Regions from separate parts of the Homo sapiens genome. Here region 2 is linked to region 1. The links come from fine-mapping of genetic effects on gene expression. A gene starts in region 1. The other region holds a variant in brackets. All regions are shown on one strand. Distances are between the middles of the regions. Region 1 holds the start of SETD3 (SET domain containing 3, actin N3(tau)-histidine methyltransferase). Region 2 overlaps SETD3 (SET domain containing 3, actin N3(tau)-histidine methyltransferase).

Region 1 (15,189 bases):
TAAAGTGTCATGATGTCTGCAACCTACTTTCAAATGGTTCAGCTAAAACACAACCACACAGTAAACATGGCAAAAAACGAACATGTGTCCACAGGTAAATAAGTTGTCATTGCACTATTCTTTCATACAATAAAAAGTTGGGGAAAAAGTCAGATGAGACTGAATAGGAGACCAGGAGGACTCCTTATCTTCATCAATCCCTCGATAGCCAAGGAATACTTGCTTATGTGTGGGTACTGCTTTCATAAATTACAACACTGTGATTTGAATTATAGCATACAAAAAGAAAAGTGAACTAATTATAAGTGTATGGCTGATTGTTTTTCACAAAGTAAACACACCTGTGTTAACACTATTCAGTTGAGAAAGAGAACAGTACCAACATTCCAGAAGCTCTCTTCGTTCTTTCCTAGTGACTATCCTCCCAAAGATAACTATTCTGACCTCTATTTCCATCAATTTGTTTTGCCTGTTTTTGAAGGACTGTGCGATGACACAGTACCACTTTTACATTTGGTTTCTTCTGCTCAATATTAAGTTCATGGGATTCATTCCTGTTGTTGCATAAAGCAGTATTTGTTCATTCTCACTGCCGCAGAGCAGTGGTTTTTAAACCTGGGACAATTTTGCCCCCCAGGGGACATTTGGCAATGTCTGAAGACACTTCTGGTTTTCCTAACTGGGGGGTTGCCACTGGCATCTAGTGTGGGTAGAGGCCAGGAATGTTGCTGAATGTCCTCAGTGCACAGAACAATCCCCCATGACAAGAAATTATCTGGTCCAACATGTCAATAGTGCCAAAGCTGAGAAAGTCTGCTGTACAGTACAGTTATATCCTATGAATGCAACACACTTTATCTATACATTCTACTGTTTGGGCATGTAAATGTTTCTGGTGTTTGATTATTAATAAGTGTTAAACATGTACATATATTCTTATAGAACAGAAGGCAACTGGACAGTTGGCTGAGGGAATCAATATCTTAGCACATCTTAGCAATTTATTCACAGTTGGGAATTGCTACTTTAATATACATACGCCTAACAGTTTTCCATGTACTTTTTCATTTAAATATTTCCTGAGCATTTACTATGAGCCAGGCCTTAATGGCATGGCAGGGCACAAGATAAGTAAGGTCTTTGCCCCAGGAAGCTTACATTCTAGTGGGAGAGACAATAAGAAAGAAATATATGAATATTTGTCAGGGAATCTTAAGTGCCACAAATAATAACGCATGTAAGGGGAGAGAACATAATGAGGTAAGGGCTGTTTAGAGGTATGCAGAAAGAGGAAGAGTTAGGAGATTATAGTAGCAGTTCAAGTAATGCCTAATACACCTGTCTCCACACAATGGCAGCTGGAACAAGGGGTGTGTGTGTCATAATTGGCCATGAGGCAAAGAATGGAAAAAGATGATTTCAAGTTTGACTGACACAGAGGGTGATACTAAAAAGACAAATGGATAAGACAAGAGAAAAAGCTGGTTTTGATAAGGAGGGAGGAAAAGAATTTGGCTCTATAAATACTAAGCTTGAAGAACTTTAAGATCCTTTTGTGGAAATATCTATCAGACAGATAAATAGGCCAGTTGAAGTCTCTACAGAACATATCTACTTGGGGTTCATCTACACAGAGGTGATAACTATAAAGTCATGTTGACGGATGGAGGGATGGAGAGTGAAGAAGGAAGGGGTCTGGGTACAGAACTCTGTGAACTTGTACCAAGTAGGAAGAATCACCAAAGGCGAGCGTTTGCCCAGTGACAGGAAGGTAAAACAGACTTGAATGCACTTATGATTTACCCACTTGCAGACTAAGAATCACCAAATTAGAGAAAGGGAAAAAGACTGGTCCAAGAAGTAGGGAAATTTGCATCCTTTGTTGCAAAACAAACCATGGGATGTCAGCTTTAAACCAGAGATGGTAGTCAACAGTGACAAATGCTAAAGAAAAGTTAAAGGACAAGGAACTAAGGAAAGTTTACTTTAATTGGTGATTAGTTGTTTATTAGAGACACTGAAAATTGTGATGGTTTCATGACTCTGCAAATACTAAAAACGACTGATTTGTACAGTTTAAATGGGTAATTTGTACGGTATAGGATTATATTTCAAGAAAATACATATATACACATATAAATAAAATAACATTTTTAGAAGTGCAATAGGGCAGAAGGTGTAGAAACTGCAAGGGGTGGTAAAGAATGAACAGACTAGGAAATAGGTTATTCTTTTTTATTCATTTTTTAATTTTTTGAGACAGAGTCTCCCTCTGTCATCCAGGCTGGAATGCAGTGGTGCTCACTGCAACCTCCCGCCTCCAGGGTTCAAGTGATTCTCCTGCCTCAGCCTCCTGAGTAGCTGGGATTACAGGCATAAGCCACCGTGCCTGGCTGGAAATAGGTTATTCTTTTGAGGCATCTGTTCTCAAAGAGAGTAACAGGGAATAGTAGGGAGTAGGTTTTGTTATTGTTTTGGTTTTTATATATTTTTCAGCATAAAGGAGAATGAAAAATGTCTGCAGCCAGTAAAAACAAAAAGGAATCACTAGAGGAGTCAGAACAAGGGAGGCTAACTGGTCAAGGGATAATAAAAAGCACAGCAAGAAAGTTAACCTTAGAAAGAAAGCTCTTTCTTCCCCTGAGAATGGAAGGAAAAGTTTGAGAAAGATATTTTTAAATAATCTTTTAAGGGGGAGGAAGTAACTAAAAAATCTCAAGAGTACCTCCATATTCTCTAGGAAGTATAATGCCAAGATATCTGTTGAGGGGAAAGGGGCAGAACGGGGAACAGTGTTAGGAATACCCCAGTAGGGATGAAACTGGAATGGAAAAGAACCTCGGTCCACAAGCGGATAAATCGTAAGTATATTCAATTGTTTTACCTTCTGTAACTGGCCAAACTCCTGGTCCCTTTAGGTTCCAAGGCAGAATATAAACAATTCATGAAATGTAGTGAAAATATTATGGACATAAACAGAATAGAGACAGTCCTCAAAATCGTAGAACTCCCTGAAAAAGTTTTTGCCTCAGGTCTATAAACCTGTTCCCTATTACTCTTCAATTATTTTTTCACAAGACCCTAAAGTTGTAAGTTTTCTCATTAGTAGCTTGTGATTCCTCTGAAAATGACTGAGATTTATGAACTCTGCAAAATGAAAATCCATAAACAAGCAACCTGTCAAGGCATTTTAGCAGCACCTTTCAGGAATGTGCTTCATAAATATCATTTTACATCATAAAAGACTAAATATATTTTCAACATTTAGAATTATGGAAACAATAGTAAATGTCACCACTCAATTATCTCACCCAATATCGAAATCCCCTCTTAGTAATATTTGGCCACTTATCAATGAAACCTCATTAGTTTACAAAACAGCCTATGGCATTGCTGGGTATCAATAACTGGTGTTCACATAATTCCTGTATTCCTATATTGATTTTTATCTGTCCTGTTCATCCCCTAGATCTGCTACACAGATGGCATAAAATAATGCATGAATGAAATCTACCTTTTAGCGACTCTTTAACTTCTACCAGGGTCCTTAAACTAAGCCTTGAAAATACATTTCCCTTATCTATTGATTGTCTTTCAAACAGGTAAAAGCAATTTTTACATTCTCTTCTCTAGGGTAAACAAATCTAACCATTTTTCTCATCATGATTTTTCTTTTTTTTTAGTGTTTCAAGTCCTCCCTAAATATTAGGAATCAAAACAGATATGATGTGCATAGCACATGGGAGGGGGGTGGTAACTAACATGCAGTAACATGTCCATTGTGTGTCTGCTGCGTTGCAGCATGTCTGCAAGCTAGTTTTCTTATCCTCACAATTTATCACTGAGAAAATGGAGCCAGAGACACGAAACAACCTGACTAATTCACAGCTAGCAAGCAGCATCACAACTAGTCTTACTTTATACCAAGATACTGCCTTCCCTCAATCTAGACACTGCTTTTCTTCTGTTTAAGTGGAATGTTACATCCTAGAACCACTTTTGTCAAGCCAGGAAAACTCAGGTTTTGTAAATGTAATCACACCAAGTAAATTTATTTATTTTTTATTTTTTTTGAGACAATCTCACCTAGTAAATTTATATCTGGCCAGTTCTGGCCTATTATTATATTTCAGCCTTTAAGAAATCTTTGATTTCTGAGTGTCATCTAATTTGCTCATTATCACTACATGGTTTGAGTGCATTTATTAACTTGAGAATCACGCTGCTTATCTATTTAAAGTTGGTATTAAGAAAGTGTTAATCCGAGTAAGGGCAAGACCAGAGTCCTGTAGCATATCTCCAAAGACATCTCCCCAGGCTTACATCAACTCATTAATCAACATTTCGGGTTTGGTAATTTGCATGGATATAAATCCATCTAACCACACCTTATCCAATGCACATTTAACTCTTGTGTCTACACACAGTATTAGAATCTTGTTGGAAGACTATGTCCTAAATAAACTTAAATGAACTTATGTCCAACAATCCCCAATCACCACCAGTCTAGTAAACTGTAACAAAAGGAAATATGATTTGTGTCACCTGGCTTTTTCTTGAGACAGGGTCTTGCTTTGTCGCCCAGGCTGGAGCGCAGTCACCCGATCACGGCTCACTGCAGCCTTGATCTCTCAGACTCAAGTGATCCTCCTGCCTCAGTCTCCCAAGTAGCTACTACAGGCATGCACCTCCACATCTGGCTAATTTTTTGATTTTTTTTTTGTAGTGGTGAGGTCTCACTATGTTGCCCAGGATGGTCTTGAACTCCTGAGCTTGTGTGATCCTCCAGCTTTGGCCTCCCACAGTACTGGTATTATAAGCGTGAGCCACCACCTCTGGCCTCACCTGGCCTTTTCTCACTGAAGCTCTGCTGGCTTCAGGGAATCAGCTCTCCTTTCCCAAGTACTCATAAACTTGTTGGCTCTTCCAACAAGATTCTAAAACAGATTATTAATAGGTTCCTAGTAGCCAAGAGCCATCGAATGGTTCTATGTGAAAACAGACATTTACCAGATTCTAGTCTTCTATCATTAACTGTACTTTTAGGATTTTTCAAAATCTAAGAATAACGATTTTATAAAGTCATCTGCAAATACTCTGGTATACAATTTACCTGAGCTTAAAAATATGATCACTCTGTAATCTCCTCAATTACCTTGAATTTAATTCCTCTAGATTTTTTTGTCCTTATCCAATTTTAAAGAAAACAAGCAGAAAACACTGTCCTCCCTTTCAGACACTCAGCAGAGTCACTGCTTTCAAATATAATGTCCTGAAATGAACTAGCCCATTTTATAGGCCACAGCTATGACCAATTTTTCTTTATGACATTCAATTTTAGAAACAGCATTTAAAATTTAAGAACCTCATTAACAACTCGAATAGTTTTTATTGCTTGTTAGTGCAAACTACATTTTCAAAATGGAACAAATTTAAACAGGATTTGCCCAGAAATCAACTAATATGCTTGAATAATGCATCACAATATAATCGAAATGAGATAAAAGAGGGAAAAAAACCCTAAAAGACACCAGCGGTGGTCACTCTGAATAAGACAATCTTGGATAATTATTATATTCATAGTCAAGATTATTTAACAGGTAAGCATCCTAAGGGCACTTTAATCCAAATGTCTATCAATACTACTACCACTACCATCATCCATCCATTCTTTCATTCAGCAATACAGAGGGCTTATTAAACGTCAGGCAGTGTTCTAGGCGCTGAAAGCTCCTCGCTTTCATTCTAGCAACATCATTCATACAAACCTTTAGCGGGCACCTACAACTGCAAGGCATTGTGCTAGGTATCTGTAAACAGCGATTTAGATCGAGATACACAAACATCACCAAGTTTCTCTTAAAAACACAGAAGACCACCCTTAAGAAATGCTCTTAGAAATAGTTCCTAACCTCAGATGACTTAGCGAAAGCTCCGTTTAACTGGCAGTCTAAATTTAGGGAGCATTACCGAGCCTATCTTGGGCAGACAATCGTTTAGGAGCTGTCACATAACCTCTAGACTTACGCTCCAATTTTCTAAAGAACAATTTCTCTCATAACAAACCAAATCAACCACCAGGAGCGGGTCCGTAAAGACGATGTCTGGGCAAGAACGAAATCTAATCCCGGAAGTGCCTTTTCCTCATCTTAGCCGCACCCTCGTTACGTGGCTCTCCAAAACTCCAAAGTCGGAGTACCCTAGACATGGAACAACCTCCAAAAAGTTTCAGGCCTAGCCAAGGTTGGGACTAATACGCCGCGAAATAATCGGGGAGATATGAGAAGTCTGTGGCTGTGAGACTGTGCGCGGTTAACACCGCTGCCCCTTTTGCCCAACCCCTAGAAAGTTCCCCAACTCTGACTGCCCCCCAGTGCGAGGGCCGCTACCAGTTCTAGGGTGAGTCCGGCCTCCCTGCCCCGCCCCGGCGCCTCAGACCCTCTCTACACGCCCGCCCCACAACCCCGCGTCGCCCGCAAAGTTCAATGTGTACCGGAGGTTAGCGGAGGGAGGCAGAATCCGGAAAGAGAGACTCCGCCAGTGGATAGCGGCGGTTGGCCATAACCTACTCCGACCTCCAGATACGCGGGAGGTGGGCGGCGCTGCCCTCAGTCGGTGGGTCACTCACCCCTCGCTTCAGGCAAGCCCCTCAGCGACGTCTCTCCTTGCCGACTGCGGCCATCTTGTATATGGAATGTCGGGGACCTACGTCATCACGCTGCGTCCTGAGACGCCACCAAGCGACCGGAGGGGCGGAGAGAGTAGGATGCCTGTCAACCAATGGGAAGAAAGCAGAGCTCTCAAAAGAGGAACGAGCCGCCGCTCTCCTCCCCGCCCGCCCCGCGGGTCAGTGGCTGCTGCTTACAGAGGGAGGAGCCAGCCACAGGGCCCATCCCGTCGGTCCCGCCCCTCGGGGCGAAAAGGCATTCTGGAGCAACCGAACCTGCTAACGGAACTTGGGCGCGTAGGCGGGGCCCGGGTCGAGATTCGTCCAATCAAAGCTCTGGCGGGGGCGAACGCAGCCAGTTGCGACATCGTGGTTGGCGGCGGCTGAGCCGGCCGCTCTTGCCCCCGGGAGCTGCCAGCCCACTGGCTGGGGAGGACCCCGAACGGAACGCCGGCTGGGTGGCGGGGCGGGGCCGCGCCCATGCGTCCGAAGCGTGGGCCAATGAACGGCGGCGGCTGCGGCCCGGGGGCGGGGTCCGGGGCGGGAGGAGAAGCGTTGGGCCGCGGTCGCGGGGCCGTCTCAGGCTGCCGTCCCGCCCCTCCCGTCCGGCCGCCGCCGCCGCCACCGCCGCCACCGCCTGGGGGTTGGTTGAGGCGGACGGCGGGGTCCGGGCCGGAGTACGTCGTTCCCGCTGCGCTAGGGGAAGCGGGCAGGTGAGTGCTGGCGGCGGTCTCTGCGCCCGCGCGGCCCGCGGGGGAAACTCGCGCCGCGTCTCCGAGCTCTGCGAGGCCGTCCCTCGCCCTGGCCAGCGCCCCTCGGCCGAAGTCCGGCCCGCGCCCCCGCCAGGGTCCCCGCCGGCCGCTGTGGCCCCGGGGCTTGAAGGGGCAGGTGTGCGCTCGGGGGCCAGGGCGAGGAGGGCCCGGCGGGGTCGGAGGGCGCCGGTCGGCCTCTGCCCGGGCGCCCTGCGGGGCGAGAGGCGCGCGCTCGCCGCTGCCCTGTCCCCTCTGGCGCCCACGCTCCCGGGCCCCGCGCCACCCGGTCTCGAGGTGGTGCCAGGTGCAGGCAGCGCTCTCCCCGAGCTTGCCCCGCTGTCCCCGGCCCTCGCGCCTGCTCTCGGGTGGGGCCCGGGCCCCTCGCGCTAGTCGGCTCGGCTCTGCGCGCGGCCGGGTCGCGCTCCCATTTCCTTCCTTCCTCCCGTCACCCCGCTGCTCGGGGAAGGCTGTGCGGTTTTATGTTCCTCTCTGCGAGTTCTCGGTGCCCACCAGGGTGCCCGGGGACCAGCCCCCGCCTCCTCCCGCGCCGTCCAGTTAGGAAGACGGACGTAGGAAATAGGTCGTCTTTCTTCCCACGCGCCCCTGGCCGTGCTCCACACGCGCAGTGCCCTACTAGGGAGAGGCAATTCGGTGCTTTAGAGTTTGTCATTCCGGCGTTAACTCTTCCTCCTCGTGGCTCCAGCCCGGCGATGCAACTCTTGTCTTTTCCCGGTCTCCACTTGGGAAAAGGAGCTGACAGTGACGCGCGCCCCTGGCTGCGGGGCTCACCCCTGCCCGGCCGGTGTTGGGAGGAGGGCATTTCAGTGTTGCAAAGGCATTCGCGGGTTAGGACCACTCGGACCGTGTTATTTTGCTTTTCTAAATAAATAAGGTGATGTTTCAAAAGCAAAAATACTTTTAAAGTATGCTGACAAATCAATTTTGCTTTTAAGAATCCTCGAAGAGTTACCCCATCTTCGTAGCCTGATTGTGGTGCTGATGAGGCCACTATAAATGCGTTTGTCAGAACTCAGAACCGGACACTGAAAAGTGTGAATTTTATCTTATGTAAAATATACCTCTCCCTCTCCCGTTTTTCTTCTTGAAATGACCTTGCCAGTATTTCAAAACTGAACTAACCAGTAATAATCTCGGAGAAGTGTTTATTATTTTAAGCGAATACATTTAACCCAAGAATATAGCAAAATAAAGCAGTCTTCCTCTCCACTGTTAAAATTTGCCAAGACTTGCTTGAACCTTGCTGTATGTACTGTGTTTATACGGGCTACCATGCGTGAAAGTCCAGCAGTACTGGATTAGTCCCAAGGGCTGCCGTGATTGATACTTTGGTGAAATTCCAACAGTTTACCGAGGAGTTTTTCTTCGGCCTAAGAAAGTAGTTTGCAAAGCCAAGTTCTCAAACAGCTACAGAACCTCTTTATTGGGACCCCAGACAACCTTGGATTTTAGCCTTCTGCTACCCCTTTCCTGTCTGCCCTCCAAGTGATTGTAAGTTAATATCTGAAATGGAACTGTAGTCTGAAGGAGTAAAATGGTTGCTTCTCCAGTGTGCTAACATCTCAGTGCTTTTTTTTCCTGGAATTGGAGTGGTGTTGGATTTGAAGATTAGAACATCTTATGTCTGTATGTACGGTTATAGCGAAAGCTTCTCGTAAGAGCACAGTGACTGTCAGTAAGAAAGTGATGGCTGCTGCGCTGCTCTTCCGTGCCGTGGACATTTAGGCCACATTTTAAATGATAATTAAGCTTTTGCTTTAGAAGCCACTGGATAATGAGAAAAATATGGAGGTGATATTTTTCCTATTTAAAGCTTAACCACTGGACAACTGTTTTGGTTTTGAGAGTTCTGATAAACGGTCACAACAGCCTCCTTGGAACACAGTACTCTCCTGCCTGGAGGAGAATGACAGGATGACGGCGCCGGGGAAGGTATGACCATCAGCGACGGAGGCTTGCTTGGAGTGAATATTTAGTAGACAATCATTGAATTCAATGAAAACCAGGTGCATAGTTTGTGCTGTGTAGAGTTGTAGTAAAAATATGAGCAAAAATCCTACCTCCAAGTCAGGGTTACTCTGAATGCTTTGTGACTAGATGTCAGTGTAGTTTGAGGCGTACCAGTTTTCTTCAATGTTTTAATTACATAGAGTCTTTTTTCTTATCACAAATCCGAAGTAGGGTTTAGAACTGTAACTAGTAATACTGTATCTTTCTTTTGTGTAGTTGGATGAATATCCTTCTCTGAGAGGTTATTTATCTTTAGAGACTGGTTTGCCTGTTCCCTGGCTGCTGTGCCTTGTGCTTCTGTTGAGGGTGGAGAGGAAGAGTTTCAAGTGTGTTTCTTTCCCTTGGACCGAAGTCCTGGGAATGGAGTGGTGACTTTGTTCCCTCAAAGAGAACTCGGAGTCATTTATTGCTATGGCATTAAATGTTTTTAACAGAACGGTGAACTTATCTTTATTCTTATGTTACTTTGGATGTTGCTTGTGGCCAGTTATAATATTTGCTTTCTCAATTACCTACCCTTATTTTTGGGCCCTTTTTTTATCAGTGAAAAATCTTTTGATTAGCCGTGCATCTTTTCTCTCCTGCTATAGTCATAGAAGTGTTTATCTGGCTAACAGTTTGTTTTGGGTCATATTTAACCAGTCGAGAGTATTAGAATAAAGAGTCTTGCTTTTTCAGTTTTCTATAGTTTTCACTTCTGTTGCCTTTACAATGGTTTTCTGTCATTGGATTTCCTTTTATCATCTCATTTTTCTATTCATAAATTGGAGAGGTTAACTAATTTGATATGCAAATAGAATTAATTTACATAATATTTACTCTCAAGGTAAAAAATTTCTATCAAAATATTAATATATATTAATATATTTTCCTATTACAAAGAAGTTGAGACTTGGCTTTTTTTTTTTTTTTGAGATGGAGTTTCGCTCTTGTTGCCGAGGCTGGAGTGCAATGTCGTGATCTCGGCTCACCGCAACCTCTGCTTCCTGGGTTCATTCTCTTGCCTCAGCCTCTGAGCAGCTGGGATTACAGGCATGCGCCACCACGCCTGGCTAATTTTGTATTTTTAATAGAGAAAGGGTTTCTCCATGTTGGTCAGGCTGGTCTGGAACTCCCGACCTGAGATGATCCGCCCACCTCAGCCTCCCAAAGTGCTGGGATTACAGGCGTGAGCCACCGCACTGGGCTGAGACTTGGCTTTTTAAAAAGTTACTTAATAGTCTTTTGAAAAAAAAATTAGCATCTGCAAGATTAAGAAGTCTTGCTTTTTAACTCAAGCCAGAGATTAGCTGTGTTGACCCCGTTTCCACTTGGGAGTCTCCTCTAAGTTTTGGATATAAACAGACTGTAAAAACGAGATAAAAACACAGATATTGAACAGTTTCGACTGAGATAAATTTGAATGGAAGAAAACTGATTCCAAATGATTATAAAATTCAAATACCAAAGTTAAGACTTTGCAATTTTTTTTTTCTTCTATCAAGTACTTTCCAAGTAGAAGTGAACTAGTGAGTCCAAACAGTCTTGGTTGACAATGAAAGACACATCTATCTTTGAAGTTAAGATTTTGAAAGGGATCTACTGATTACTAAGCCAAAGTGAATCATTAGCCTTTTGCAAGCCTAACCTCAGTACTGGGATGGGGAAGTAGGGGAGGGCAGAGGGACAGAGCAGGAAGAAATGTTTCCACTGTTTTTTAGAAGGACAAAAAAAATTGTCTAGAGAATGTAGATAATCAAGTGTCTACACGGAACTTTTTATTTTTAGTTTTTAATTGACAAAAATATATGATACATAGAACTCTTAATAAAATATACACTTAGGTTTATTACTGTCTATGATCCTGAGTTTCACGTTCCATTTTTTAAGAATACAATTCATCAGGACATAACAGGTCTAAGAAAGTCTTCCGACTAAATGGTTTACAATGTTCAGTCTCAGAAAATAGACATGCCTTTTCAATATCAGCAGTTTTCTATTACACATATTTGAGAGGAAGTAAAGATTAGTGTTGACAAATACTTATAAAAGCTGCTTTTACCATAAAATATTTACTAGTGTCTAATAACATTTTTGATTTGTTGTTTGTAAAAATTTAGCTTCGCTGCATGTCATGGTCACCTCATGGTTCTGCGTTTTTCCCTGCAACAAAAATGTGGCATTGCAGATATGGTGGACTGGATGGAAGCTCTTTTGGAAGTTTTGCCCATGTCCCAAATTTAACCTGCAGCTCCTCCTATGTATTTGGACAAAGCCAGCAAAATAACTATACTTTTAAAAGGCCAAAAAATAAAACCTTTACATGCGTATGTTTTATCAGTGCAAGGGAATAGTATTTTGAATATTAGCGATAACAGTGAACCTTTGGAGCTCTCATAAATGGGTTGGTTTTGAGCCGAACTCATGAAATATTATTATCAGTAAGATTTGTCATTGAGGTGTGCTGGTGAGGCTCTGACACAAACTGAGTCTATCATTTTGCATAAATTAATCAGTCTCCGTAAGCGTCAGCTTTCTCATCTGTGAAGGGGACTTGTTAATACCTATCTTATATTGTGTAAAATGCTTACCTCAATTCCTGATCATATAATAAATGCCCAAATGACATGATTGTGATGGGGACGATCATATTGGAGAACTTCCATAGGACACAGGACATGGCAAGGATGATCCTGAAATAACATGACAGCATGAATAGTTGCATTTAGGTTCAAAAACTCAGTTGTTGAATATAGCACATTTATCTTGCTGAAGATCACGAAAGGCTTTAGTTGATTACTGTCTTGTCCTAAAGGCTATGGGACCATGTTGCATCATCTTTGTGTTTGAGATTAGATTCTCAGGAAATGTGCAGGAATGAGGGAATGAATTCACTGGGCTCATAGAAAAGCTAGGGCAGTCTTAGGAATATTAGTCAAATTTCTTTGAGTTCCAGGAAGGTGGGTAGTCCATCTCAGAGCACATCTGAAGGGTTTTGTTGACTTAAAAAAAAAACAGTTCATTGAAGTATAATATGCTTAAGTGGTTTTGCTCACTTTTGAGAAATATGTAGTAATGAGGGGCACATTAAGCCTGGAGAAGACAAAACTTTGGGGAGACACAAAAGCTGACAGGTCAGAGAGGATGGTGAACTTCTCTGCAATATCGTACTGGAGGGGCTCACAAAGCAGGAGATTGCCTTGGAAGTGAACGTGCAGCTCTGCTGGCCGCCTAAAGGCGAAGCTTTGGAGCTGCCTTTTTCTCTTACTGGCAATCTGCCTTAGGCTGTGTTTGTTAATCAGGAATAACACGCTCTCTCTGTCCTGCCTGTCTTATATCCTTCTCAGACTTGGATCAGGTGAAGTACTGATCGTGACTGCTCCATAACATCCGGCACCATGATCTTAAACACGCGTGGGATTGAGAGCTACTATACATAACCCCAGAGGTCTCCTCTAATCCTGTTGCTCCTTGGTTTTAGAATCCAGAATCCTCATGTTAAGGAATGTGGGTGGTTTGAAGGTAATTTCTTGACGGATTACAGCTGTTTCTTCACACATAACATTGTCTTTTTTATTTTAGAAAGATATAATAGGAAATGATTATTCATGATACCCAATGATTTTTTGCTTTACAAAAGGTTTTTTTGGTAACTTCCATTAAATAGGAACCTCATGTTAATTTATTTGCAACTTCATTCAATGGCAGTTTAAAACTAAAACCTACTATGTAATGAAAAGTCAGTCAGAAATGTTTAGTTATTTCTAAAATTATTGTGTTAGTGGAAAAATAGCAAAAAAAAAAAATTGCGAAAAGCAACAACTGTGCTTATTTATTTATTTATTTATTTTTGAGACACAGTCTTGCTCTGTGGCCCAGGCTGGAGTGCAGTGGCACGATCTTGGCTCATTGCAACCTTTGCCTCCTGGATTCAAGTGATTCTTGTACCTCAGCTTCCCAAGTAACTGGGACTATTTTTAGTAGAGACAGGGTTTCACTGTGTTGGCCAGGCTGGTCTTGAACTCCTGACCTCAGGCGATCCGTCCGCCTCGGCCTCCCAAAATGCTGGGATTACAGGCATGAGCCACTGTGCCTGGCCAACAACTGTATTTTTAAAATCTCAAGTTATAATACTTACATGGGACAGCCCAAATTGTTCTGTATCAAGATTAAATTTTGATCAAATTAAAATTTTATTTGCATGCAATTTATAGATCTTTATACATCTTGGTACTTAAGTAGTTACTGAGTTGAAATTAATTCCACCTTCTTCCCTGCCTGCTTGCCTTGACTTCTTGGTACTTTTGAATTGTGGCACATCAGTTCTTTTATTTATTTAATTTATTTATTTATTTTTGAAACAGAGTCTCACTCTGTCGCCCAGGCTGGAGTACAGTGGCTGGATCTCAGCTCACTGCAATCTCCACCTCCTGGGTTTAAACATTTCTCCTACATCAGCCTCCTAAGTAGCTGGGATTACAGGCCTGTGCCACCATACCAGGCTAATTTTTGTGTTTTTAGTAGAGCTGGCGGGGGTCTCATCATGTTGACCAAGTTGGTCTTGAACTCCTGACCTCAAATGATCCACCCGCCTTGGCCTCCCAAAGTGCTGGGATTGCAGGTGTGAGCCACTGCCCCTGGCCCAGTTCCTCTTTTAATTAGAAGATTGGAATGATAGGTGCCGGTTAGCCGTGTAAACTGGTATGAGTTGGTATGGCATGGCGCTGCTACTAGGCCCTGCTACTGTGCAAAGCCAGAACACGTTTCTGATATGTATAAGTTTCAGCTAACACGGTACCATGGCACTTTATCGGTATCTGTAGGAAAGGAAACATTGTACAATTAAATCCTTTTCAGTTTGGGAGTGCCTTCATTTTCCTAACTCGTCATCCTGTAATTTGTGTATTTAATTCTGAATGTAGTAATCTGATCCTGATGGCCGGCAAAGTATTTTAGTAAGAGTGAGAAAAGAGTATTTCCTATTCTTCCTACATGAAGATTAGGCCCTCACACTCTCTCGAGTGTGCTTTACAGCTGAGAGCCTGAGGTGGAGGAAGCCATCCTTAGGACCATTCCCTCCCTTAGTCAACCCAGCTGTGAAGTTGGGTCAATGCAGGATACATTGAAAAACAGATGCTGTGCTTGAGCTAAGGTTTCCTGGATAAATTGCCAGATAAGTGTAATCAAAAATGTTTATTCTAGTTCTGTTTAGTTGAAAGCAGCATTTTCGAGGGAACTCAAGAAATACACAAATAAATATCCTTTCCATTTAGAGTGTTTGAAAAAAAATGCAAGTGAATTACATCCAAATCAGTTCATTATGTGTGAACTATACTTTGTAAAAATGGGTTAGGTATTTAGCACCCCTTACCCCACCTCCGCTCCCACTGCCCACATTAGCCAAGGTCACTAAATGTGCTTTCTTGTTTCTCCTGACCCATTTATTCCACGATTCAGATTCGATGGAAAAGAATCGCTTGATTGGCAGAGGTGGTGGTTGATTACAGATGCCCCTGTATATTAGTCAGCACTTTAAATAATAATTGAGTTTGTCATTCATTTCTCTGTCTTCTAAAGTGTGTCTTGTCTGTTAGATGGGGAGGTTGTTGGTGGACTTGTAAGTGGTATGTGGTGTTTTAAAGGGCCAAAGTTTGAAGATTCTGTAGATTTTAAAAATATCTTGATGGTGAAGAAATGTAGATATGTGTGAAACTCTTGGCTTAGCTGTTCCTTTTTATAGATACCCCTTCCTCTGAATGACTA
Region 2 (15,189 bases), 57 kb after region 1:
GGAGAAGGTGGCGCCTGGGCTCAGCAGTGCCAGGTTCAGTCACTCGCTGATGCATCACCTGCTTCCTCTCCCTCATTTCCTCAGTGGCGCCACGTGAGCCCCTAGAGGCCTGAGAGCAAACTCCCTTCCTGGCTACAGTTCCTAGCCTAATGTTTGGCACTTGATAAATGTCTGTTGAATAAATGTTCGTTGTTTGCAGGTCAGGTCAAAAGGTGTATTAAATACCCTGAGGAACAAGTAATTAATATAGCTGGAGTCTTTGGTGCTGGTGTCAGAAACCTTTGACTTTTTTCCCTATTTTAAAAACATGAAATTATTTTTGAATTTTAAGTCATATATACATGGAATAGAAAACACTAGAAAATATAAACTAGCATCAGGTAGAAAATTAAAGCTTCACATATTCTGTTTGACAGGGTTTCAGTGACCCAGAACCTCAAGTGGGCAGATCTGGATGGGCCAGAAACCTCAGTGTGAAATTCAGCTTCTCCCAGACTTCACTCCCATTGTGCATGTGTGTGTGCATATCTGTGCACCCAGGGCAGGGAGGGCTTTATTCAGAGAGCAGAGATCTTTCTTTACTCTTCTCCTCCTCAGTGGGAGCCAGTGCTAAACTTGGTTCCTGGATTCAACTCGAGTGAGCATAAGTCACCTGGGAAACTTACTGAAAACGCTGTTTCCTGGGCTTCCCTCTCTGGGCCCATCAGGCCCATCTTGAGCCATCAAGGCTGGGCTCACTCCCCCTCCCCTCTCGTTTAATGGCTGGGGGTAGTGACTGCTTGTCTTTGGACCCACTCCAGAATATCTTACCATTTCCTCTATACTTCACAGTTTTCATCTGTTTCAAAGAATGAAAACAGGTGTGTGGAATTGAGGAGACCAAAATAAATCCTTAAGCATATAAGGTAGGCCTTATGGAGGCCTTAAAATTACTTGATTTTCATAAGTAACTTTGGGACTTAAAAAGATTCAGATGGGTTTCTATATTGGATTTGCTTCTGTTCAAGACTCCTGGTGTTGAGGCACCTCTTCCTCACGTTTTAACTAGCCAGTGTCTGTCTGGAGTACAGAGCACATGTTTCAAAGAACTTGGATATATCCAAAACCCATAAATTTAGGACTGAAATAGGATGTTAGTTATCAGATGACTGAGTGAATGCTGAACATATATGGAAACAAAAGAGACAAGAAATGGTATAACCATATTAATGACAATCATGAAACAGACCAAATGCCTCGCACCCTAAGCAAAGTCTCTTACATCCCGTTTAAGAGAATCGGGGTGCTCTGTTTATGTTTAGATTTCTTGGCTTCTTTCCATTCCATCTCAGAGTTTCCCCTGCGTCTCACCAGTGCTCCTTTTCTTCACTTTTCTTTTCTTGTCCAGCCTGTGCCCTTGGTGGTGTGATGCCTCCTGTGTCTGTGTTCTGTCACTTACTTGCCCTCCCTTGTGTCTTTCTTTTTTCTTCATCCTTTTAAATCCTCTTCTTTTTTTCCTGCAAATATGTTTGGTTCCTGTGAACAGAACAGTTCAGTGCAGAAGGGCACTAACATTTACTGGGTTCCTGGATCATGGAGTGGAGATCCCATGGAGCAGAGGCACAGGCAGCACCCAGGGAGCATGCAGTGAGTGAGAAATGACTCCTGGAGACACCGTATTATGGCAGATTCCAGCCCATCTTGACTAATAGTCATATGTTTGTGTGAATTTTTTTGAGAAGTACACCCAGAAGTTCATAATTAAAATTTTTTTTTCTTTGCTGCTTAGAGGCTTAAAACACACATTTATTATCTCACAGTTTGTGTGGGTCAGAAAGGCAGGCATGGCTTAGTTGGGCTGTCTGCTGCAGGGTCTCTCTCAAAGCTGCAGTTAGGGTGTGGTCTCATCTGAAGGTGTGACTGGGGAAGGGTGCCTTCCATGCCCACTCCTGTGATTGGCAGCAGGCTTCAGTTCATCAGTGCCTGGGTTTCTTGCTGGCAGTTGCTAGAGGCCACCCTCAGTTCCTTGCCACATCAGGCCCATAGATTTTATCAGATTCTCAAACTTCACCTACCCCCTCCCCACATTTTCTCACTTCCTCCATCACTTGTTTTGTTTTTCTTTCTTTTTTCTTGAGACGGGGACTTACTCTGTCACCCAGGCTGAGTGCAGTGGCATGATCTCGGCTTACTGCAAACTCCACCTCCTTGGCTCAAACAATCCTCCCACCTCAGCTTTCCGAGTTGGTGGGACTACAGGTGTGTGCCACCACACCTAGCTAATGTTTGTATTTTTTGGTAGTGATGGAGTTTTGCCCTGCTGCCCAGGCTGATCTCGAATTCCTCACCTCAAGTGATCTGCCCTCCTGGGCCTCCCAAAATGCTAGGATTACAGGTGTGAGCCACTGCACCCAACCCCTCCACCACTTGTTTTGATTCATCCTTTGGCAGATTACTTTTCCTAAATGCTGAAGACCAGGGGGTGCTCAGTGTCTACAAAGTCCTTGTTCCTGGATGGATACTAACTTACTGACACCTCTCAAGTGCCAGCAAACTCTGGTAGCAGGGATTGTCTTCATTTTACATGTGAAGTAACAGACCAGATGGGTAGCACTGCTTGGGGCCACATAGCTAATACTCTAATGCTCCTGCCGTGGGCACTGTGCCACCCTCTGCAGGGCCTCATGTGTTGGGACTGCACTGGCATTGCACCTTTTCATCCCTCTGTGTGCCAATCGATTCTGCAAACCCCAGCTGCTCAGCTTCCCTTAACAAGCCCTCCTTTCCCTGCCTCTGCCATTTCCGGTACTCTCTGTCTGGGATGTCTCCCTTCCCACATGGAAAATCCTGCCCATCTTTAGAGACTTAACTCGCATGCCACCTCCTCTGTGAGTCATTGCCAGATCCCCCTCTTCCCGACAGTGACTGCAGCTTCTTTTCTGAATTCCAGCACGTGTCATGTATCCTGGTGTGACACGTCACAGTTTGCCTGTCTGGGCTCCCTGCTCCAAAGTCGTTGGCTCCTTAAAAGCAGGGAACTCATCTTGCTCATTGTCCCCCCACAATGCCTTGCACGCAGCAGACACACAGTGCAGGTTTGGGGAGTTGACGGACGAAGCTTTGCTGGGAAGCTTTAAGATGAGATTAAAGTGGCTCTGAAGCTGCAGAAATGTGCATTAGTACATCAAGGATAAAATTATACCACTTTATGCCTTGGCCTCCTTTATCGTTTTCTATAAAATAATAGCTATTTTACTTTGATAACTTTTGAGATTAAGCAAAATCTTTCTTGAAAGTTTAACACCTGTTCCTTTTCCTACTTTTTTGCAGATATAGTTCATCCTACAGTTTTCACACTTACTCACAAGAGTAGCACAGTAAATATTACATTTATTTCATTATGTCCTGTTTTTTAAAACATGGGCATATATTTTAAGCAGTTAAAGGCTAAAAGATGTGGTTATTTTGGTTATCCTTATGATGGGGTAACGTATTTTCACTGAAAGTCAGTGGGCATCTTCCAGTCAAATGGAGAAGTTGTCTGTTTCGTAATACAAAGGTATGTTTTCCTTGTCAGCATCATGTGCACCATTAAGTTTCTGTGAATAATTTGAAGTACCTAGCTTTATTTTTCGAGCTAAAAGGTTAATTTGCAAAATGACCACACTTGGGAAAGTTAGCAGCCTCGTCATAGGAACATGACAGGAGGCGCTCCGGATGCTCCCCAGCTGCCCCCCACGCTCTCTTGCCTGCCAAGTAAAACCCTGACATCACCGCCTGCTTCTCCCTGCGTCCCCACCTGAGTTACTGATTGCAGCATGTGGGGCATGCAGTGTGGGGGAGGCAGAAGGTGGGGAGTAGGTAAATATGAAAGGCAAGGCCTCTGCCCTCGTTGGCCGAGCGAGGTGTAAGTGGACACTTTGGAGGCTGGGATGATCCTGAACCTAGGAACTGAACCTGGGAACTTGCTTTTCTGAGCTTGGCAGGCCGTTCTGGTGTGAATTTAAATATGCTCCCCCCTGGGAGAGGACACCTTAAAAAATAAAGGGCAAATTTTAAAGGGAATCTACACGTTGGTCAGTGATCACTACTAGATGGGCAGTCTCTTACTTTTCTTCCAACCTACGATTATGACTTCTGGGGAAAATAGGAAGTGGCAATGGTGAATATGGAGTCAGTTCATATTTATCAGCACCTTCTGTTTGCCAGGTCCAGCAGGAGAGCTAAGGACTCTCTCTGCTGGGTCCCCTTCCGCCCTCTCCCCACATTCAGGCCTCAGCTGCTCTGCTGCTTTCCGTGCTCTGCACACCCCAGCACCTGTTCCCTGTTGTTGCTTCCTTCCTGTTTGTGACTATTTGTCAGTGTCCACCATCCAGCAGACAGGAAGATCTGTGAGGGCAGAAGCCAGGTCTGTCTTGCTCCCTGCTTTTCCACTTCACTCAGAGTGGGTGCTGTGAATATTTGTTGAATGAGTGAATGAATGAATGAAATCCATGAAGCAACTCAGGAGCAATTTCACGTGGCATAAACCAGAGTGCTACGTGGTATTTTGTAGACTGCATGGGTTAGACATTTAGAGGTCACTGGAGGTCATATGTAGATTTGAAGGCAAAGGAATCTTAAACCTTGTCTTAGGATTTGGCTAAGTGGATGGGGGGGCGGATTATTCCAATAATTGGATTATTATTCCAGTCTGGAAAGTTGTGAAAATGTGTATGTTTGGGGGAGGAGGGTTTGAACTGTTTTCCACACCAAGTTTTTTTTAGGGATTAATAATCTAAGATTACCTCTAGGTTAATACAACAGCTTGTTTTTTTTAGAAATTAAAAGGTAAATAGGAAAAATAATGGTCATTTTGCTGAGCATAGAGTCTTAACTGACAAAGCTAATGATCTGGAAAAACCTATGTTGGAAAATGTCACTTTATTATATATGTCTGGAAGTACAGATGGGAAAACAGATTTTTTTCTTTTTGCAGTAGATTCATTAAGTGCTTAAGAAGAGATTCTCTTCTGTACCATCTTTACAGCCTGAGTAATTGGAGGCTAAATCTAAACTCCACATTGTCTTATGTTTCTTGCAAAAGAGGTAGCTGGATTGCTATTTTCTGACACTTAAATGGAGGTCCATTTCTAGGCATCTGCCAGTGCCTTGCTTAGAGCGAGATAATCCCTTCTGCACCTGCCGTGTACAAAGCGATTATGGCAGAAACTAAAGACTAATAACAGCTGACGCCTACTGACTGCTTACTGTTTGCTGAGAATGTTCCACTGAGCACAGAAACCTTAGGCACTTGCTCCAGGTCTTCCAGGTTCAGAGCTGGCGCTGGGCTTTGCAGGGCTAGATGCCAGGCAGGTGCTCTAACCACTTGGCTCTGCTGGGCCACACGGCAGCTCCCAGTGCCCGCTGGCAGGCCTTTCGTGTTCTTGCATGCGCCTAACCCCTTGTGGCTCCTACTCTAGGAGAGTTAAATACCAAGGTGTGCACGTGGATGGCGGAGTTCCTCCTTGAACCTCTGACTTTGGCAAGATAGTTGGCTAACCATCTTGTAGAGGGTAGGACTCCTTAGTTCAGCAAACCTGCTAGAGTGTTATTTTGTGTGCCAGTGCATAAATTAACCATTATTATTTATAGTCCTGTTTCTTTTGGTCTGGTGCAGTTTAATTTAAAAGAAGTAGGGAGAAGTGAAACTGGTTTGCTGTGATTTAGTCCATCAGCCCTCCCTCTGGACTGCCTCATCCCTCCTGTTCTATAGGGCACCCTCCGAAGCCCCGTGTCCTCCCCACCATCCCCTTTCTCAGCTTCTGCTCCCGGGTGCTGAGTGTTGTGAAGTTTCCAGGTGCCATAACAGTTAGTGCAAGGTGAGTCTAGCCTTCTCAGCCTGGCCGGTGAGTCTCCTTCCTGCCTGGAGAAAGGCACAGTTGTGTCTTACCGGCTTCTCTCTCACTTCCCTGGGTACAGATTCAGGGTCTCTGTGTCTCAGCTCTTCCTGGGCTCCCCTCATCCCTGCACTGCTGAGAAAACTGAGACCATGTGACAAGAACTTCCTTTCCTTTTGTCTCCACCTGGGTTTCTTATGTCCTCCTCTCCTCCCCTCCCTCTGAGGAAGGGACCCCCCTTAGAGCTAAGGGAAGCCCTGGGGCCTGGTCAGGAACTCAGGTCAGGAGCTCAGCGACATTGGCCCTGTGTTTTCACTCTTTCTTTCTGTCCTGGCTTTATCCCCTTGGTTTACAGACAGCCCCCATGCCTTTGAGATGATGTCCTGTCTGTCTTCCACCTTTAATCACAACATTTATCAAGAACATTCCACACTGAGAGTTCTTCCAGCCCCAGCAGCCTGGCTCTCCCCGCCCTGAAGTGTGATGCCCTCTGGGAGGGCCTGGGGTCTGGCTTCTTTCCCTGCCCAGTCCCCTCATCCTCCCCACGTTCCTGCTTCGTTCTTCCTGCTCTTCTGAATCTCCAGGCTTTTCTGACCCTACCATTCCTGTCCCCCGAATGTAAGAGCTCTCCAAGTTTCTGGGCTCCGAGTTGGGAGTCAGCTGACCTGGATTTCAAAACCCAATTCTGAAGTCTTTTCTCATCTATGACTATAGTCAAACATCTTATAGTAAAAGATAGCTTAAGTCAGTCTATTGGATTTCCTGCATTCTATTCCAGGTGGACAATTTAATAATTACCTGTTTTCTAGGTAGTGCTTAAAAGATCTGCACTGATTAAACTATTCTTTCATTGAAAATTTGTTTCCAGAAATTGAATGCTCCAACAAAATGGTATCATTCTTAACAATGTGAGATAGTATTTCCTCTGGAAAAAAAAAAAAGAGAGTGAAATCCATTTTACCACTATTGATCAGTAGAGCATTTAATGAAGAAAATATAAGGCAAAGTATGATTTTTATGAAAAAGGAAGTAATCAGACTTGAATTTTCTAACTTGTGCTACTTGGATATCCCTTGGCCGTTCTCATAAGAGAAACCAGGTACAGGTGGGTGCACTCTGTGTGATTTGGCCTTGCTTCTTTGTTCTTCCAGATTTTACCCTGTTCAGTTTAAGACAGAGTGTACCTTTAACAGTACTTATGGAAGTACTGTGAATGACTTTTTTTCTAACATATCTTAATGCTAATGGAGAAATAGCAAGTACTGATGGCATCTTAGTGCCTGCTCTTTTTTTTTTTTTTTTTTTTTTTTTTGCATAACAGTGCTTAAGAGCCTTCTGGTATCTATTTTGGACTCCTAATGAAATGAGAAAGGCAATTAAAAAAAATCAACTGAAGATAATATGAAATAGTTTTGCTTAATAACAAACCTCTCAGGTACTCTACCCAAAGGTATGGAGATTTTAAATTATGTTTGGTTATTCAAGTGTCTTGACTTACTATAATACCATTCTATTTTGATTCTAATAAATTATAATCCTATAATTCAGTTCGTTGCCGTTTTAATGGGACATTTTACTAGTAATGTTAAAATATTCATTTTATTTGTCAAATTTCAGGGTAATATGTTTGAGGGTTCCCTTCTCAGAGGATACAAAAAAGGGTTACTTAGATTTTGAGAGCTATAGCTCTTTCTCAGTGACTGTATATTATAAACAAAGAAGTTTTGTTACTTCCCTCTGAAAGGCCTTTACACCTCCCTGCTGTAGGTGAGAACAGTAATTTGGCTGTATCTAGAACAACCCAGGGACAGTGTTGCGGATTTTCTCTTTGATTGGTACCTTTTGAACACTCTTTGAGCGTGGGGAATAGAGAAAAGGAGGGAATATGAATAACTGGAAACTGCTTCCCTCAAGTAACTGAGCTTCCTGAGGTGGAGGAGCAGAGCCAGTGCATCTGCGACTTGCTGGTGTCCACAAACCCTCTGTCCCCAGGCGCCTTGGGGGCCGCGGGGCTCCACAGAGCCGCACACTGAGCCTTTGATGGGGGAAGGGTTTTTGAGCTGTGTTTTCTTCCCT[G/A]CATCCCCACTTCCCTCCTTTGTGACCAGCAGCCCGGTATGGTACAGTGGGGACCTTTACCTTAGATTTTGTTATCAGTGAGATTTACCTAAGTAAACTCCTGGCAGCTGGTGACAAGGCAGTGTATGTGATGTGTGGATTTAGATGGTGCTCTTTGAGAATGTGGCTGTCTCAGGCTCAGTCAATTGTGGCAGTCCTCCTAAATCAGTGGGATTGACTTATTACATCAGGATTTGGCTTGTCTTTGTTAGAACCCCAACAGTCTACAGAGAAGGGTTCTCAGATTCTGTGGTGCACCCCTAGAGCTCATTCCTCATGAGCTCCTCATAGACTACTCAACTTCCTTTAGGCTTAAAAGCAGAATGTTTAAGGGACCAAAGTTCATTTCCCTAACAACATGACAATAAGGAGAGTTGAAAGTAGCCAAAAAGATAATGCTAGTATAATAACTTGATATAGTGGTTTAATGATTGGCAAAGCTGTGGGGTGTCTTTGAGGCTGTTAAGAGTTATCAGAAAAATGATAGAATTCCAGATGATGGAATATTGGAAATTGTTGGGACATCGATGTGGCATCATTCTAGTGAAGAAAATGCCAAATATGACCTCTCTCATACATGTATTTGATACATATGTTTTCTGGTCCAAACTTCTTCATGTGCATGGTGAACAGAATTAGACCAGGTAATCTAAGTTACCATCCAGGGCTGAGATTTTATGACCGAAGACTTAACAGCTAAACATGGTATTCTTTCTGATGGTGCGGGAAATAATAGACTCACTGTCTTAGTTTTGCTAATGTTGCCTGCCTTTAAACTTCATAATGCCTTTTATAATACCTCTATGGTGAATTTTAAATGAGAACAGTATTTACCAAGCATTTTTCTGGAATTTCACCAAGCAAAAATATATTGATTTTATTAGACTTTATAAGACTATTTATAAAAGTAGGACAACTAGATATCCTCTGCCTTGAAGTAAACTCCAGAAAACTCTTGTCTGGATTGTTGCCTAGCCTCATCATTTATTAACTGGGTAAACTTGGGTACGCTTTTAATGTCTGTCTCCCTCAGTTTCCTCATCTGTAGAATGAGGCTAATAAGTGCCATTTCATAGGAATTGAGATGATTAAATTATATGCACATAGAGTTCTCGATAGAGTGCCCGGCACAGAGCGCTCAGCAAATGATGACTGCTAGTGTCTGTCTCCCTCTCCCACTGTTTCTCATGGAGATGACAGAGAGCTTTCTTATATACCAAGCTGAGGTCATACCTTTCTAGGACAGGAGTTTATCTACATATTCTGAATGTCAGTTACCTTATAAAGGAAGTTGGTTTCATTATGGTGGTCCTAACATTCTCTTGTAAATGACTGATTACTACTACTGATTACAACTACTCTTGTAAATGACTGATCATACTAGATTGACTCATTTAAACAGAGTCCAACGTAGTTATCCTGAATTATTGAAACCCAAAATTGCTGAAATTAAAACTAAAACAATATATTATGAAACTGGTGATAATACATAATTCTAGCCTGCTTTTTTGATACACTCTAGCCTGCTTATAAAATAATAACTTTTTACCGTTCTGTTTATTTCTAGTTTCTTTAATAAGATGGAGGAGTTGGAAGTATATATATCTTTTGAATAAGCATTGATCGATTGGTGGAGTTGACTTTTTGCAGACCAGAGAATGAGGCTTGGTCATCGTTTAGAGTCCTTAAGTCAGTCAGCAGATTGAGATGTTGGGGGTGGGGGTGGGGAGACAGGTAGTGTCAAAAGGCAAAGAAACGAAAGATTTACTGTCTTTAAAGAAGACAGCAGTAGCTTGTCTGCACCTCCCACCCCCCCCCCCCCCCCCCCCCCCCCCCCCGCCCTCGCCTGGCTTTTTCCAGTGAGGAAATGGCAGCACAAGTGGTTGGGCAGCATGCTTGGATGACCTGGCAGGTTCCCAGCCTCACCTCTTCGAAGGGTGTGTGCTACATGTTCGGGGTGAGTTGGGGGTGGGGCGAGATTTGGTGACCATTTGGTACAGAGGACTGGTGGGCTTGATCTGTGTTGTTGTTTCTCTTTGGATTCTTAGAATAGAGCTTTCTCAAATGTGTTTAAAGAGAGATTTGGGGAAAAAAATGAGAAGATTCTCTGGCCCCTAGATGGTAGAAGAATATTCTGTTCATAAGAGGGAACATAGGATAGAAGGATGTGGAAAGCTGTGTTTTTTGAAGCCTATGGTCACTGCCTTGGTGTGGCAGGGGTGCCCACATGGGCTGGAGCTTTCTGAAGAGGAATGTGGAGATCAGATTCCCCTGGGGTTGCCAGTCCCTGGTGCAGCCTCTCAGCAGCACCTTTGGAGTCATAGCTTTCCTCCGCTGTCCCAGGAAAAAGAGTAGAAGTGTATCTTGTCACTTGGAGAAAGAAGATTTTTTTGTCCCATTCCAGCAGGTGTAGTTAAAAATAAATTTTAAAATTTTAAAAAAGAAGAGGAATTCTTTGAATGAGGCACTGAGCAAGGCACTGGGGACTCACAGGGGGTCAAAGAAGACATGGTCCCTGCCTTGCTGAGCCTGCCTGTGGGGACTGGAGGGGAAGAGATGCTAATCAAATGGCCACAGCGCATGCAGTTGTGAGGGGCAGACTGAGGCCAGCGTGGGAAAGGCAGGAACAGGGCAGGAGGATCAACAGGGACCTGGAGATTGGAGAAGGTGGCCCGGAAGAAGAGGGATTTGCATGACCTTGCCTACCATCCTTTTGTGGTTTTTTGGTCACTTATCTGTCTTCACTGCTAGGCAGTACCCCCTAATGATATCAGTGATGTACAGTGCCTTCCACTTCGGAGGTGCTCAGGAAATGAAGTATGTGTTGAATGAATGAATTTCTAGTCTTAACCTATCTTCATCTTTTTTTCTAAGTCAATAAATATTTGTTGAGTAATTGATGATCAAAAATATTGATTGATTATCACTAAATTTGGTTCATAATTGGTTGCCCATCATAGAGTATACAAATGGTAGCTAATAAAAAGGTTTTTTTTTTTGTTTTTTTTTTTGAGACGGAGTCTCGCTCTGTCGCCCAGGCTGGAGTGCAGTGGCGGGATCTCGGCTCACTGCAAGCTCCGCCTCCCGGGTTCACGCCATTCTCCTGCCTCAGCCTCCCAAGTAGCTGGGACTACAGGCGCCCGCCACTACGCCCGGCTAATTTTTTGTATTTTTAGTAGAGACGGGGTTTCACCGTTTTAGCCGGGATGGTCTCGATCTCCTGACCTCGTGATCCGCCCGCTTCGGCCTCCCAAAGTGCTGGGATTACAGGCGTGAGCCACCGCGCCCGGCCATAAAAAGGTTTTTAAACAGACGTATCTTTTGCCATGTTTCAACAAATTTTAATTAAATTTAACTGGATGTAGATTATACATTCATTGTCTTCCAATGGGAGAAAAAGTTCTTCCATCATAATTTTATAAATTTATTGAACAATGTTATTTCTCCACTAATTTCATTTTCTTAATTTAAGTTTTTTAAATTATAAGGTGATACACATTTGTCATAGAAAAATTATATATAAGCGAAAGGCAGAAAATCTTAATTCAGTGTGTATTGATGTATTTAAATTTTTATTTCATCATATCAAGTGAATTCAAAGAACTTTATGATGAAAAATTCCCTGAAGAGTTGGATATAATCTGTGCTTAAAAATAAAAGTCTTAAAAATTGATTTTTTTCCCTCAAGAGCTGAACATGTGAACCATGTTTTGATTCTGATTTATGGTCATCAAAACTAAATTTTCAATTCAAGAGATACTTTGCAATTTGTCATTCTGTTCAACTGTATTATATCCACTTAGAAGACGGGTTGATCAGCCTTCTAGAAACTCGCTGTCTTGCATGCTGCTGCTTATGAGCCTGCATTTGGGGGTGGAAAGGGGAAACCTCAAGGTATTTAGTGTAAATTTTTCTCCTGCCTGCCATCTTTTCCATCTTTCCAATATTCAGCTTTCTTCTTTTTGTTTATCTTCTCCCATTTCTCCTCACTCTGTTTCCTTCTGGGGATGTCCATCTTCTTACTCTCTCTCTGCTCCCATTCTCTCTCTGATTGGTGCAGTATTGCTTTGAAGAGGAAGGGGGTCTCTATAGGCCTATAGGATGGGCCGATGGAGCTGTCTTTTGCACCTCTGCTTTCTCAATTTTTACAAAGCACATGTATTTGCTGAGGCCATGGATCCACAGTGGGCCTAGGGAGGATGCCACAGGCTGTCCTGCCCAGGAATTTGTCAGACCAGAGATCTCTTGGTTATGTGAGATAGGGTCACATTTCTGAAACTTGCAAAATTGCATCCACCCTAAAAGGCCAAATGTGAGAGTTTGTGACTGATCTCATCCTTGCAGAAGGAAGGAAAATGAAACCATCACGTGAGTTAGGTGTGTCTGTTCCTGGCTAATTAGTCCCTGACTAATTAAAAGAGATAGTCCCTGACTATCTCTTTTAATGTATGCTTAAGGAGTGAAGCAAAACAAGATCCAGCTGGATTTTAGTCAGAAAAATTTAATTGCATGGCATTATGGTTTTTTTATCAGAACAAGCTAGGTGCAACTTCTAAATTATATTTTGTCATTTCTGATACTATAGTCATCAAACAGGGCAGAGTCACTGAATTCTTCCATAAATATATTTGAAATTAATAATTTTGCATTATGGCAGGATGTAAATTCTTTAACATACAGTATTTAGAAGAGTCATTTCTATGAGCAACTTTCCTTTTTGTATAGTTAAATGCCTCATTGAAGGTGATTAATATGTTCAACTTGTTTTTCTTTAAGTAAAAATCAGTCTGGGTAGAGAAGAATATTCTTTAGAAAAGTAAATATCTGATTTTGGGAAATGTTTGTGTCTTAGAGGCCATTTGTGTGTTCTAATATATTTTTTTCTTCAGAGCATTTTGATTCTTTAGGTTAAATATGGCCTTTTGAGAATTGTTTTAGGAAACACCTCTCCATGTATTTATGGAAATACTTTTATTTTAAAAATGCTTATTGTTAAATGTTTGAAAAACATGAAAAACAAAAAAACCTTAACGCAAATGTATTTTGTTCCTGTGCAGAGCTGTTAATGTTTCAAAGCTGTTTCACGTACTAGATGTTTCTGAATTAGGGATTCACATAATAATGAATTCTGCTTATTTTGGTTCTCCACAAAGGTTTGTTGTATGAGCTTAAAATAAGCCTGCAGCTGATTTGTGTAACACATATTAACTGTTTGTTTAGTTTAAGTGCATGTCTGTATCTCTCATTTCTGATCACCCTGGAACATTTGCATGCTGCACAGCAGCCATCTTCTTTTATACTTTATTAAATATCTGTCAATTATAAATATCAAGGTTTTACATTAATGTCAAGATAGTACATCAAAAATTCATGGAATATGTGACTTTTTCCAAGGGTATTTAATACTTAATGCATCTGTGTCATTTTTCTTTCCAGAGATATCGACAGGTTTTATTAAGTGTTTGTTAGGGAGATTTCATTTTTATCAAGGGACTATAAAGAGAAGCTGCATGCTAAATCAATTTTTTAAAGCCGGAATATTGTTCATTTTTTCATCTTCAAACACTTATAATCCATAGGTTTTATTTAAATTTCTTCTTGGTTTATTTTTGTTTTATGTGAGTGATAGTTCAAGACGGAACTTTAATAAGGATCAAATATGCTGACTGTAGTGGTTTTTAATTTCCTTAAGCATAGCTACCAGACCCATGCAATATGGTAAATTCTTCAAAATGTCATACTTACATATTTAGCAATATTGCTCTTTTTTATTGAAGCCGAACAAACAATTTTAGATATTAATCTTTCCCAAACGTAGTGATTATTTTGTACTCGGTACAATATTACTGTGTCTCAACATGGAATGCCTCCTTTTGCTGGAAGAGGGAAGGGGAAGAGTGCGTCCCTGGGTTGCCTGGCTCTGTAGTGCTTCAGGTCTGATTATGAGCCACGGCAATGGTTCATTTCTCCATCTTCATATATTTATTGTGCTCAAGAAAGTAAAAATATTAATCACTTAAAAAATCTGGAGAAAATCCGTGGCTAGTTTCTCCGCCTGTATTTACTGGGAGGTGTGGGCTGAGGGGAGGTAGCGCTTCAGGAGACCCCATTGCCGCTGCTGCTGGGCCCCCCATGCCTGAGAGGCCCTCTCACTGTCGTCTTTCTGACAGTGGCAGGCAGAAGCTTCTCAGGGACCCTCCTCACCCATCCCATGTGTGTCTGTGTCTTGGAATCTACAGTTACAATTGGTTTGGAAGCTAAAACCAATTGGCTGCAGAGAGTACGTTTTCTGTTTTAATTGTATATTTTTATTTTAAAAGTGCAAGCTAGGAATGTCTTCTAGTGAAAAGGCTATTGTAATCAACAAAACCTTTATAAGCACCACTTTGCTTCATTAAGTGAGGAACGCTCAGTTATCTTTTGTATAACGTATGAGCTTAAAGATTTTCATCTAAGGATATTTTAGGAACTTTCCAGTAACTTCAGATTAATAATTTTTGGAAGATGTGTTTTAACTTGGTCTTCAACAGGGAAAAAAGGTTTTTTTTTGTTTGTTTTTAATACATTGAGCTTAAATGAAAATTGTTTGGCATAGACATTTGTCTTATCCTTGTTCAATTCTTCAGAATAAGTAAAACCATTTATTTTCAAAATTAAATATTTTTTAATTATGAATATTTTTGATATTTGAATGTCTCAAGATTCTTATAAAACTATTATATAATAGTTTTTAGAGACAGCAGAGATTTTTCTTTTTAGAAACCAAATCTTAGTTGGGTAAAGCTGAAGTAGTAGCTGTTTTTGATAAGCCCAGTTTTTGGTTTACAGTAAGTTGCTTTAAAGGCCTTGCCCTGGGAAATATCAAGAACTCTGCGACTGTAATCTACTCTCCCAAGTTGCCAGAAGGTGGCAGTAGTGTCACAGTAATGAGAGCTCTGTGGAGAGAGTTATTTCCTTTCTCCGTTAGTGTCACATTTTGCTTTAGTGTCACTGTTAAGTGCATGTGTCAGTGGCAGAATCTTTTTTTTAACCAGATTTATGTACAGTGTGTACACCCTATTTCTTAAGAAGATAAGAACTATTTCTAACAGATTCTGCAAATATTATGTAACCATGCAGCCAAAATGATCTTCAAAATCTGAAGAATGCAGTGACACATTTTTTTCTTGAGTGTTTTTTTTTTCCCTAAATGATTTCATCAGGACTGTGAGCATGG

What was found. PIP is the estimated chance that this variant, and not a neighbour inherited with it, causes the effect.
Region 2: its variant is fine-mapped to the expression of SETD3 in whole blood (INTERVAL, PIP above 0.99).

What each region holds. Positions count from the first base shown.
Region 1 is chr14:99,472,919-99,488,107 of GRCh38, reverse strand. It overlaps SETD3 (SET domain containing 3, actin N3(tau)-histidine methyltransferase), which reads left to right and starts at 7,249. Exons shown (of 13, transcript NM_032233.3): 1 at 7,249-7,380. It overlaps CCNK (cyclin K), which reads right to left and starts at 6,699. Exons shown (of 11, transcript NM_001099402.2): 1 at 6,629-6,699. RefSeq lists enhancers at 6,439-6,808, 7,617-8,118 and silencers at 6,999-7,458, 7,569-7,768.
Region 2 is chr14:99,415,570-99,430,758 of GRCh38, reverse strand. All of the region lies in intron 6 of SETD3 (SET domain containing 3, actin N3(tau)-histidine methyltransferase), which reads left to right. Among named protein-coding and RNA genes, the nearest start is that of SETD3, 58 kb to the left of the region's middle. RefSeq lists enhancers at 4,847-5,709, 5,710-6,573. The variant G/A (reference allele first, on the strand shown) is at 7,935.